Linked DNA regions of Homo sapiens: region 1 is linked to region 2. Evidence: fine-mapped expression QTL. A gene starts in region 2. The other region holds a variant in brackets. All regions are shown on one strand. Distances are from middle to middle.

Region 1 (5,372 bases), 27 kb before region 2:
GGAGAGGAATGCAAAGGCCTTGGAGGAAGGGGTGGGGGCAGTGAGAGGGAGGGTGGGGCTGTGCTCAGAGCGGGAGTGGGCAGTGGAGGTGTCAGAGGCCTCCCTGGGTCAAATGGGGTCCTGAGTGTGGCTGCAGTGGGGAAGGTGGAAGTCACTGGTGTGAAAAAGATGAAGAGTTATGGACAGTCACTTACAGGGGCAGTGTCTGACTCAGGACAGTGGCAGGAAGTGACCTGGGGAGGAAGATTCTGGGCCCCTGACTGAGCCTCCCCAGGATGTGGTCCTGCTGGGTCGGGGGGTGATAGGAATGAGAAGACAAGGAAGTCCACAGAGTCAGGGTCCAAGGCCTAGAAGGTGTTCTGTTTGCAGGTGGATGCTGCAAAGAGAGGAGCTCAGGGCTGGGACAACTGGAGCTGCTCTGGGTCTGGAGGCAGCAGAGAGGGAGCCCAGCTCTGTGTGCAGGAAGACGTGGGTGTGTGAGTGTACGTGTGTGGGTGTGTCAGGTGTGTGTGTGTGGGAGGGAGTATGAATGTGTGCATTAGCATGCATATGCACATGTGAGAGTGGGTACAGCAGAGCGTGGTCATGAGTGTGTGCAAATGTGTGTTTTTGAGTGAAGTGAGCAATGTGTGAGTGTGTGAGTGTGTGTGAGTTTGTGAGGGCATGTGAATGTGTGTGTCAGTGCTGTCAGGGTGCAGATGGATCAAGGGGCAGGAGAGGTACCTGTGAGATGACCTCGGGCTGAGGGGAGCAAATTTAGTGTGGAACGAGGTTTCTAGGGAAGCGAGGGCAAAGGGCGCTGGGGAGGAGGCCTTGCGTGGTGGGGGATGAGGACAACAGGTGGGACCTGGAGGGTTGTGCTTGGAGAGTGGGCTATGGTGGAATGACCCAGATTTAAGGATCTCAATGGAATTTTGGCAGGGGAGGGACTGTTCCAGTATGGATTTTAGGAAGAACACAGGGCCCAGCTTCTGGAGTCTCCAATCTGAGGGGACAGGAGCCTTAGAAGAGCTGAGACTAAGGCCCGAGGTGATCTGGAGGCCTCTGCCACTGGCTGGATGGGAGGAAAACCATTCACAGATCCCCCTTCTCAGGATGTGTGCCTAGGCAGGGCCGGGTCTGCCCCCCCGCCCCCTGTGCGTCTCCCAGTCCCCCAGCTCCAGGATCCGGGCTTTGCACACAGCTGATGTGAATATCCTGAGTCGTGTGCATGGGTGTGTGTGCACCAGATTAGCTGCGTGTGTATATTTATACATGGTAATATGGGTGCGAGTGTGTAAGAGTGTGTGTGTAATGCTCAAATGCTGGGGTCAAAGCCTATGATGACCCCCCCCCATGGCCCCAACCAATCCCCCCGCCCAGGTTATGCCTCCTCAGGCTTCGGTGCCCTGTCTTTACCCTCCGGCTCCCCACACCCAGGCTGCCGGCTCCTGATGCCCCTCTCCCACAGGGCCACCTCCTGCCCAGCCCCTGGCACAGCGTCTCTGCTCCATGGTCTGCTTCAGTCTGCTTGCCCTGAGCTTCAACATCCTGCTGCTGGTGGTCATCTGTGTGACTGGGTCCCAAAGTGAGGGTCACGGGGGCCAGCAGGGATGGGCAAGGGGTAGGGAAAGAGACATGGGCAGTGGCGGGCAGCGATCGGGGCGATGGGAGGGGAAGGGATGGAGGCGGGGTGGAGCACAAGCTGGGGCAAATGCGGGGACATTGAGGGGCCAGTCACATGGACAGTGATGGGGACACGGCCCCTCTGCCTCATCCTGCCCCCACTACCACCTGACAAGGTGCACAGCTGCAAGCCGAGCTGCGGAGCCTGAAGGAAGCTTTCAGCAACTTCTCCTCGAGCACCCTGACGGAGGTCCAGGCAATCAGCACCCACGGTGAGGGGCTGGACGGCTGGGTTCTCATTTATCCGCACAGGTTTGCTGGGCTCAGTGCCGAGTCTGCAACAGGGCTGTGTGGGGTGCCGTGGGGGTGCAGGCTGGGCAAGGCGTCCAGGGGCCCTGGGGGATGTATAGGAGGGAGGCAGGTGGGGACGGACGAGGTTAGTGCCAGGTGGAGAGGTTGGATCTGCGACACCCGGAGGTGAGGAAGGCACCATGTCTTGGGCCTGTGAGCAAATCGAGTGTGGCAGGCCCATCGGAGGGGCAGGCAGGTAAGGGGTGGCCAGAGAGAGGTGGGGAGGGGCCCGGCCACGCAGGTGAGC[C/T]GTGCTGACAGAGCGAGGCTTTATTTTGAGAAAATGGGGACCCATTGAAGGGACTGAAGCAGGAGAGTGGCCTGAGCCACTGTGGCAGTGCAGGGAGCCTGGGTGTGGTCCAGGAAGCCAGGAGGTGGACGCCTGCATCGCCCAGGACGAGGCGCTGGCCCCCGGTCCCCCAGCAGCATGAGGACGGAGGGAGGCTCAGCGGGGAAACAGCTGGCTTTCCGCTTCCAGGAGGCAGCGTGGGTGACAAGATCACATCCCTAGGAGCCAAGCTGGAGAAACAGCAGCAGGACCTGAAAGCAGGTCAGAGAGCCTCCGGGGTGTGTGCGCATGTGCGTGCATGTGTACGTGTGCGGTGTGTGTAGTGTGTACGTGTGCGGTGTGTGTAGTGTGCACGTGTGCGTGCGTGCGTGTGTGTGCCTGCAAGCATGTGTATCTGTGTCTCTCTCCGTATGTGTGGTGTGATATGTCATGGATCTGTGTGTGGTGTGTAGTGTGGTGTATATGTGTGTGTTGTGTGTGTATGCATGTGTGGTGGTGTGTGTGAGATGAGTCTGTGTGTGTGCGGTATGGTATATGTGTGTGTACGCATGTGATGTGTGTGGTGTGTCTCTTGGTGTGTTTGTGTGTGTGTGATGGATCTGTGTGTGGTGTGGTCTATGTGTGGTGTACATGTCTGTGGTGTGTGTGTGGTATGGTGTGTGGTGTGGTCTATGCATGGTGTACGTGTCTGTGGGTGTATATGCTTCCCCAGCCACAGGCTGGAGCCTAGCAGGTGGGGACCACACCTGCCGGCAGCACTTTCAGCCTGTCTGTCCTAGATCACGATGCCCTGCTCTTCCATCTGAAGCACTTCCCCGTGGACCTGCGCTTCGTGGCCTGCCAGATGGAGCTCCTCCACAGCAACGGTAGGGGTGGGGCCGTCTCCAGGCCCAGTGTGCCTGCCCCTCCGGCTGGATCTCATCTCCCTGCCCCCTGTCCCCTCAGGCTCCCAAAGGACCTGCTGCCCCGTCAACTGGGTGGAGCACCAAGGCAGCTGCTACTGGTTCTCTCACTCCGGGAAGGCCTGGGCTGAGGCGGAGAAGTACTGCCAGCTGGAGAACGCACACCTGGTGGTCATCAACTCCTGGGAGGAGCAGGTGAGGCCACGCTTCCCACAGGCAGGAGGAAGCCCTTGGAAGGCCTGCTCTGGGAGGCTGGATCAGGCTTATTTTATCCATTTTTTTTTTTTTTTTGAGATGGAGTCTCGCTCTGTCGCCCAAGCTGGAGTGCAGTGGCACGATCTCGGCTCACTGCAAGCTCCGCCTTCTGGGTTCACGCCATTCTCCTGCCTCGGCCTCCCAAAGTGCTGGGATTACAGGCACGTGCCACCATGCCCGGCTAATTTTTTTGTATTTTTAGTAGAGACGGGGTTTCACCGTCTTAGCCAGGCTGGTCTGGAACTCCTGACCTCATGATCCGCCCACCTCCGCCTCCCAAAGTGGTGGGATTACAGGCGTGAACCACCGCGTCTGGCTGAACTTCAAAGTATTTTAATGCCACAGTAGTTAAGCCATATGATACAGGGGCCAGAATATATGTATTGTTTGCATTACATCAGGCTCTGTTAGTACTTTACAGCATACTGTGAGTACGAACATATTTTGCTTTACTGATCAGGTTGAACTTGCCAACATTTCATCAGTTTTGACCTATAAAAATGTCAGTTTCATGCAGTTCAACCTAAGATCTCAGTGCTCTGTGATTTGGCACACAATAAGCTCATGACCACTACAACTTCGTGGTGGACGGTGCTTTCGTCACTATGAAGCCAACGTGTGTCCCAGTTAATGCTTTTTGCCTTGAATTTATCTGATATATAAATACCACGGTCCTTGATTTTTTTGTCACTTGCATTTGCTTGCTGTATCTCTGTCCATCCTTTTGTTTCTTACCTTTTTGAATCTCTGTTTTAAATTAATGATTCTCAGTCTTGACTGTACATTGCAATCTCTTCAAGAGTTAAAAAAAATATATCGACTCCTGGATCTCGCCCTTAAAAATGCTGATTTAGGCCGGGTGCAGTGGCTCACGCCTGTAATCCCAGCACTTTGGGAGGCCGAGGTGGGCGGATCATGAAGTCAGGAGTTCGAGACCAGCCTGGCCAAAATGGTGAAACCCTATCTGTACTAAACATACAAAAATTAGCCGGGCATGGTGGCGGGTGCCTGTAATCCCAGCTACTCAGGAGGCTGAGGCAGGAGAATCACTTGAACCCGGGAGGCAGAGGTTGTGGTGAGCTGAGACTGCGCCATTATACTCCAGCCCGGGTGACAGTGCGAGACTCTGACTCAAAAAAAAAAAAAAATGCTAATTTAAATTAATCTTGGCTTCATCCTGGACCATTCCCTGAGGGGCAGCACAGGGCAGCTAAGCTTAAGGTATTTCTCCTATATAGGTTTTTTGTTTTGTTTTGTTTTTGATACAAGATCTGGCTCTATCGCCCAGGTTGGAGTGCAGTGGCATGATCTCAGCTCACTGTAACCTGTGCCTCCCGGGCTCAACGGATTCTCCCACCTCAGCCTCCCAAGTAGCTGGGACTACAGGTGCACACCACCATACCTGGGTAGTTTTTTGCATTTTTAGTAGAAATGGTGTTGTGCCATGTTGCCCAGGCTGGTCTTGAACCCCTGGCCTCAAGCGATTCGCCCGCCTGGGCCTCCCAAAATATTGGGATTACAGGTGTCTGAGCCACTGTAATCCAAAAACTGCACCTGGCAGGTTTTGTTTTTGATGTTTAAAAATCTAATAAGTACCTTTTCTTTTAATAGGTGAGTGTCTCATTTACATTCTAATAGATATGTTTAACCCTAGTCCTTTCTTTTTTCTGCTTTACATGCTTCTTAATTTTCTTACAATTGCTATGTGAGAGGTGTTCTTTTTGTTTTCTTCTTTATGGTATTTTGGAAACTATGTAGTTTATTTAGAGTTATTCCAGTGATTACTTGTATAACTTTAAATAATAGGCTGAAAATTATTGGCTTTGAAAACTAAAAGTTTGTATAACTTCCATAGGAAAGGTGAGGAGACCAGGATACCTCTTATTCCCATGTGTCTGAGTCTTTCCTTTCCTAGGTTCCTTAAGTGTTGTATCTGAAAAAAAAAAAAAATTTTTTTTTTTTTTGAGATGGAG
Region 2 (5,372 bases):
GTTGCCCAGGCTGGAGTGCAGTGGCGCGATCTCGGCTCACTGCAAGCTCCGCCTTCTGGGTTCATGCCATTCTCCTGCCTCAGCCTCCCCAGTAGCTGGGACTACAGGTGCCCGCTACCCCGCCTGGCTAATTTTTTGTATTTTTAGTAGAGACAGGGTTTCACTGTGTTAGCCAGGATGGTCTCGATCTCCTGACCTCATGATCCGCCCGCCTTGGCCATCCAAAGTGCTGGGATTACAGGCGTGAGCCACTGCGCACAGCCGTGAGATCTGGTCATTTAAAATCTGATCCCCTGTCTTTTCTCTTGCTCCTGTTCTTACCATGTGAGGCACCTGCTCCCCCTTCATCTTCCACCATGATCATAAGTTTCCTGAGGCCTCCCCAGAAACTGAGCAGAGGCCGGCACCATGCTTCCTGCACAGCCTGCAGAACTACGAAGCAATTAAACCCCTTTCCTTGATAAATTACCGAGTCTCAGGTATTTATTTAGAGCAATGTGAGAATGGACTAATACATGCCCTATTCTTGAGGGACATTAAAAATCAACCCTATCTCATATCCCTGCTCTTTTTCCGCAAAGCACTATTGCCATGTGGCTTATGTATATTTTACTCATTTATTTTGTTTATTGGTGACCCACTAGAAGGTAAGCTCTATGAAGGCAGGACTTTTTTGTCTGTTTACTTTTGAACTCCTGAACTCTGCCTCTTGGGAAGGAAAGTGCTTGGCATGCCGTAGACTCAATAAGTACTCAAATGGATGAATAAATGTGTATAAGAGTGATTGGACGTATGTTTATTGCAGAACTATTTACAATAGGAAAGACTTGGAACCAACCCAAATGCCCATCAATGATAGACTGGATAAGGAAATTGTGGCACATATACACCATGGAATACTATGCAGCCATAAAAAAGAATGAGTTCATGTCCTTTGCAGGGACATAGATGAAGCTGGAAACCATCATTCTCAGCAAAGTAACACAGGAACAGAACACCAAACACCGCATGTTCTCACTCATAACCGGGAGCTGAACAATGAGAACACATGGATACAGGGAGGGGAACATCACACACCAGGGTCTGTCAGGGGGTGGGCGGCAAGGGGAGGGAGAGCATTAGGACAAATACCTAATGTATGCGGGCCTTAAAACCTAGGTGATGGGTTGATAGGTGCAGCAAACCACCATGGCACACGTATACCTACGTAACAAACCTGCACATTCTGCACATGTATCCCAGAACTAAAAAAAAAAAAAGAAGCTTCAAACCCACTGAACCAGACTGAAAAAAAAAAGTTAGTGAATGGAGAAATATCATGTTCTTTTCATGGAAGATTCAACAATGTCAAAATGTTGATTATCTCCAAATTAATATGTGAATACACTGCAAGACTGTGGTAGACACACAGAGAGCTACCCAGGTCCCCCTTCTAGGAAGGATGTGGTGACCCACTGTGGGGAGTGTAACCTGCAGACAGCTGCTTCCTGAGGTCACACCCATGTCAGGGCTGACTGCCAGTGACCGAAGGAGCTGGTGCTCTACAGGACCCTGTGGCAGTCCAATGCTGGACAGCTCCCGGGGGTGGCATTGTTTGAACCCAGAGCTCCCTGTTGGTTTGGTTGAAGCTCTCCAAAGTGCTGGGCTTCTCCCTCTGCCCAGCACCATTTCATCCACTTTCCTTTTCGAAGTGCTAATCCCTAATAAATAGCTTGTACCCCAAATTCAGCCTCAACCTTGGCTTCCAAAAACCGAACCTGCGACATATACTAATCAAAATACCGAATACCAAATAAAAACAAAACTGGCAACGACCTGGCCGGGTGCGGTGGCTCGCGCCTGTAATCCCTGCACTTTGGGAGGCTGAGGCGGGCAGATCATGTGAGGTCAGGAGGTCAAGACCAGCCTGGCCAATATGGTGAAACCCCTCTCTACTAAAAATACAAGAATTAGCTGGGTGTGGTGGCGGGACCTGTAATCTCGGCTACTCGGGAGGCTGAGGCAGGAGAATCGCTTAAACCCAGGAGATGCAGTAGCCGAGATTGTGTCACTGCACTCCAGCCTGGGCAACAGAGTGAGACTCTGTCTCAAAAAAATAAATAAATAAATAAAATAAAAAAGAAAAGAAAAAGAAACAACTTAAATTTCTGATTTATTTCTGTCAATAGAGAAATGCTAAATAAATAAATTACGGTGCCTATGATGAAATGAGGTGCAGGTAGATCAAGTACATTTTATAAACTGATGTGGAGAAATGTTCCTGATAGCTTGTTAACTCCAAAAAAAAAAAAAAAAAGCACATAGCAGAACACAACCCCATGTACATACAAAATATAACCTAAAATGTATTTCTTCTCCTTCTCCACCTTGTAAGATACTCAGTTTCCTTCCTACTGAAAGGGATGTGCGCGTGGATTCAGGGCAGCTCCCTTAGGGGTTGAGCAGGGATCATGGGATGAAATGGAATCCTGTTCATGAAGACAGCGCCTGTGCTGAGAGCCAGAGCAGGGTGCCAAACTGTCTCCTTACAAGCTGTGAGTGATCTTGGGCTCTGAGCCTTTAGTCCGTCATCCAAAATGCCTCCCCAGGTGCTTGGGGGGAATGGTTGTGGAAGGTAAATGTCTGGCATAATCCTATCACAGATTACTCAATAAAATTTGCTCTTTTCCTTGGCTTCTCCCGTCCTATTAGGGCCAAGAAGTTCTATTCTCTGGCACCCCCTTCCCTCCTTCCGAGTGGAGTGAGGCGAGCGAGGCCACAGCTGAGCAGCCGAATGACTGGGACCCAGAGGATGCTGATGCCAGGGACTCAGGCCAGGATTGAGCAAGAGAACAGACTGGGCTTCTCTAGGATCAGAGGTGCGATGATGGAGACCCAACAATTCTGGGAAATGTAGAGGCAGGAAGTGAAAGGAAGTGTAGGGTAGAGGAGCAACAGCAGATTGTACCTCTGATCCAGCCCTGCTCCCAGATGGTAAAAATGAGGAAGCTCCGAGAAGAGGAAAGGAAGTAGGCATGGCCTGGAGGAGGAGAACAGAGCTGGCCTCAAACCCAACTCTCCCCACCCACACATGGTCTCTGTGTGTTCTAATCCCTGTTCATTCTCATTTACTGTCTAAAGTTGAGGAGATGGGATGTCCCAGATGATAGGGCTCCTGGGATTTCAGACCCAAGACCAGCAGGACTCCAGTCACCTCTACCCCAGCTCTCCAGGACACAGCGCTCCCAACTCTGAGTGACGTCCCACCTCTGGTCCTTGCAGCACAACCAACGTGGGAATCACACCCTCCAGACCTCCCACAGGTAATGGTGCTGCCGGTGCCGGTGAGACCCAGGGGACAGGGGATGTCAGAGGAAGCAGGGAGAGGGGGACTTTGGGTCTTGGGTGGGACTAAATGAAAATAAATATAAGGCGGCAGTGTGGGGTTTAATTACTACGTGGAGATTTGAGACTCTGTTCCCTTCACTGGATTCTAGATTGGGTTACGGCAGCCACAATCCCCTGTCATAAACTAAGACTCCGGGAGCTGAGGCAGGAGAATCTTGTGAACCCAGGAGGCAGAGGTTGCAGTGAGCCGAGACGGCCTCGTTGCACAACAGCCTGGGCGACAAGAACGAAATTCCATCTCAAAAAATAAATAAATAAAAATAAAAATAAACTAAGACTCAGACTCAGCCTCATTGGTGGCCCATTTCCAGCCTTATCTTCATCTCAGCCCAGCCATGCCCTAATCCCAATACTAACCCCAGCTTCTACATTTTCTTTTTTTTTGAGACTGAGTCTCACTGTGTCGTCCAGGCTGGAGTGCAACGGCACAACCTCGGCTCACTGCCACCTCTGCCTCCTGGGTTCAAGTGATTCTCCTGCCTCAGCCTCCCAAGTAGCTGGGATTACAGGCGCACACCACCACACCCAGCTAATTTTTGTATTTTTAGTAGAGATGGGGTTTCACCATGTTGGCCAGGCCGGTCTCAAACTCCTGACCTAAAGTGATCTGTCTGCTTCGGTCTCCCAAAGTGCTGGGATTTATAGGCGTGAGCCACCGCACCTGTCGCCCCCCACCCAGCTCCTACTTCAACCCCAACCCCAGAATCAACTTGAATTTTAACACCAGCCCAAAGCCAAAATTGAACCTCGACTCTATTCTGTTTCCAAATTCACCACCAAAGTTAACCCCAATTCCATCCATGGCTCCAACGTGCATACTGACCCCAATCCTAGCATGAGATACAACCTCCAGTCCTGCCTGATTAACTGGCCCACTGGGTAGTCCTAGCAATGCGTTTAGCTCCAACGTTACCCTCCAGTTTCACTCCCAAACTCAACTCGACCCCAATTCTAACTCGACTGCAAACCCAGGCTCATTTCCGTCTTAACCCTGGGCTCATTCTCAACCTGAGCCTCATCTCCCAACTCAACGTCAGCCCTGCCCTTGGCTCCAACTTAGTCCCAACCTCCTATTCCCCAGCTCCACCCCAGACTGGGCGCCGGCCCTGCCTCCATTTCAGCTGTGACAACCTCAGAGCCGTGTTGGCCCAAGCATGACAAGGACGTATGAAAACTTCCAGTACTTGGAGAATAAGGTGAAAGTCCAGGGGTTTAAAAATGGTAAGAGGAAAGGGGAAACTCTCCTAAAATGCCCTCTTTATATGTTTAGAAGGATTTCTCCTATCATTTCTGTACCTCCACCACGCGCACTGGTGGGTCCTAACTCTGAGGAGGTCAGGCCCCAGCCTCTGACGGGCCTAGTGTGAAGAGGATGCAAGGTCTCTAGAAAGACTGGGACAGGGAGGATCACAGTGGACCCAGCTTCTGATGCTCTGTGGGGTGGGGATGAGAGCTGCGCATTGGTGGAGGGAAAGATAAGTAGTTGGGTTTGGAAGGAAACTCATTTGTGAACCTGATTGTCCAGCAGGTAGGTGAGCATAAGCCCATGAAGGGCTGGCTGCCCCCAGCTCTCCCTGTGTCCTCCTGCCCCTGCCCCCAGCTCTGACCATGGGACCCCTCATATCGCTATCACGTGGGTCCCCAGGGGTGTGAGGGGCCTGTGTGACTGAGGACTTGTGCTGGTCCCTGAAGTCAAAGGCCTGGGCATCCCCCACCCCAAAATCCTCCTTGTCCAACCCTCCCCTGGAGTCCCCTGTGCCCAGCCCTCCTCACTAGACAGCTCCCTGGGCCCTCTCCTTCTCCCGTCTCCGGTGTCTGGACCCTCCTCATCCTGACACTCTCTCCTCTTGCAGGGCCACTTCCTCTCCAGTCCCTCCTGCAGCGTCTCTGCTCTGGGCCCTGCCATCTCCTGCTGTCCCTGGGCCTCGGCCTCCTGCTGCTGGTCATCATCTGTGTGGTTGGATTCCAAAGTGAGGGTCACAGGG

Which allele goes with the higher level. Alleles are on the strand shown, and positions count from the first base shown. SD is a standard deviation of normalised expression in the study named.
With allele T in place of C in region 1, the expression in monocytes after LPS of the gene that starts at base 3,103 in region 2 is higher (moderate effect, 0.55 SD a copy in Fairfax 2014).

Evidence for each region. PIP is the estimated chance that this variant, and not a neighbour inherited with it, causes the effect. A credible set is the group of variants that fine-mapping cannot tell apart.
Region 1: its variant is the best candidate, but not a certain one, in a credible set for the expression of CLEC10A in monocytes after LPS (Fairfax 2014, PIP 0.64).

The regions. Positions count from the first base shown.
Region 1 is chr17:7,104,967-7,110,338 of GRCh38, reverse strand. ASGR2 (asialoglycoprotein receptor 2) reads left to right here. Exons shown (of 9, transcript NM_001201352.2): 3 at 1,451-1,567; 4 at 1,782-1,877; 5 at 2,432-2,503; 6 at 3,022-3,108; 7 at 3,188-3,339. Among named protein-coding and RNA genes, the nearest start is that of ASGR2, 7.2 kb to the left of the region's middle. The variant C/T (reference allele first, on the strand shown) is at 2,204.
Region 2 is chr17:7,077,982-7,083,353 of GRCh38, reverse strand. It overlaps CLEC10A (C-type lectin domain containing 10A), which reads left to right and starts at 3,103. Exons shown (of 9, transcript NM_001330070.2): 1 at 3,103-3,302; 2 at 4,469-4,608; 3 at 5,241-5,357. The coding sequence starts at 4,542.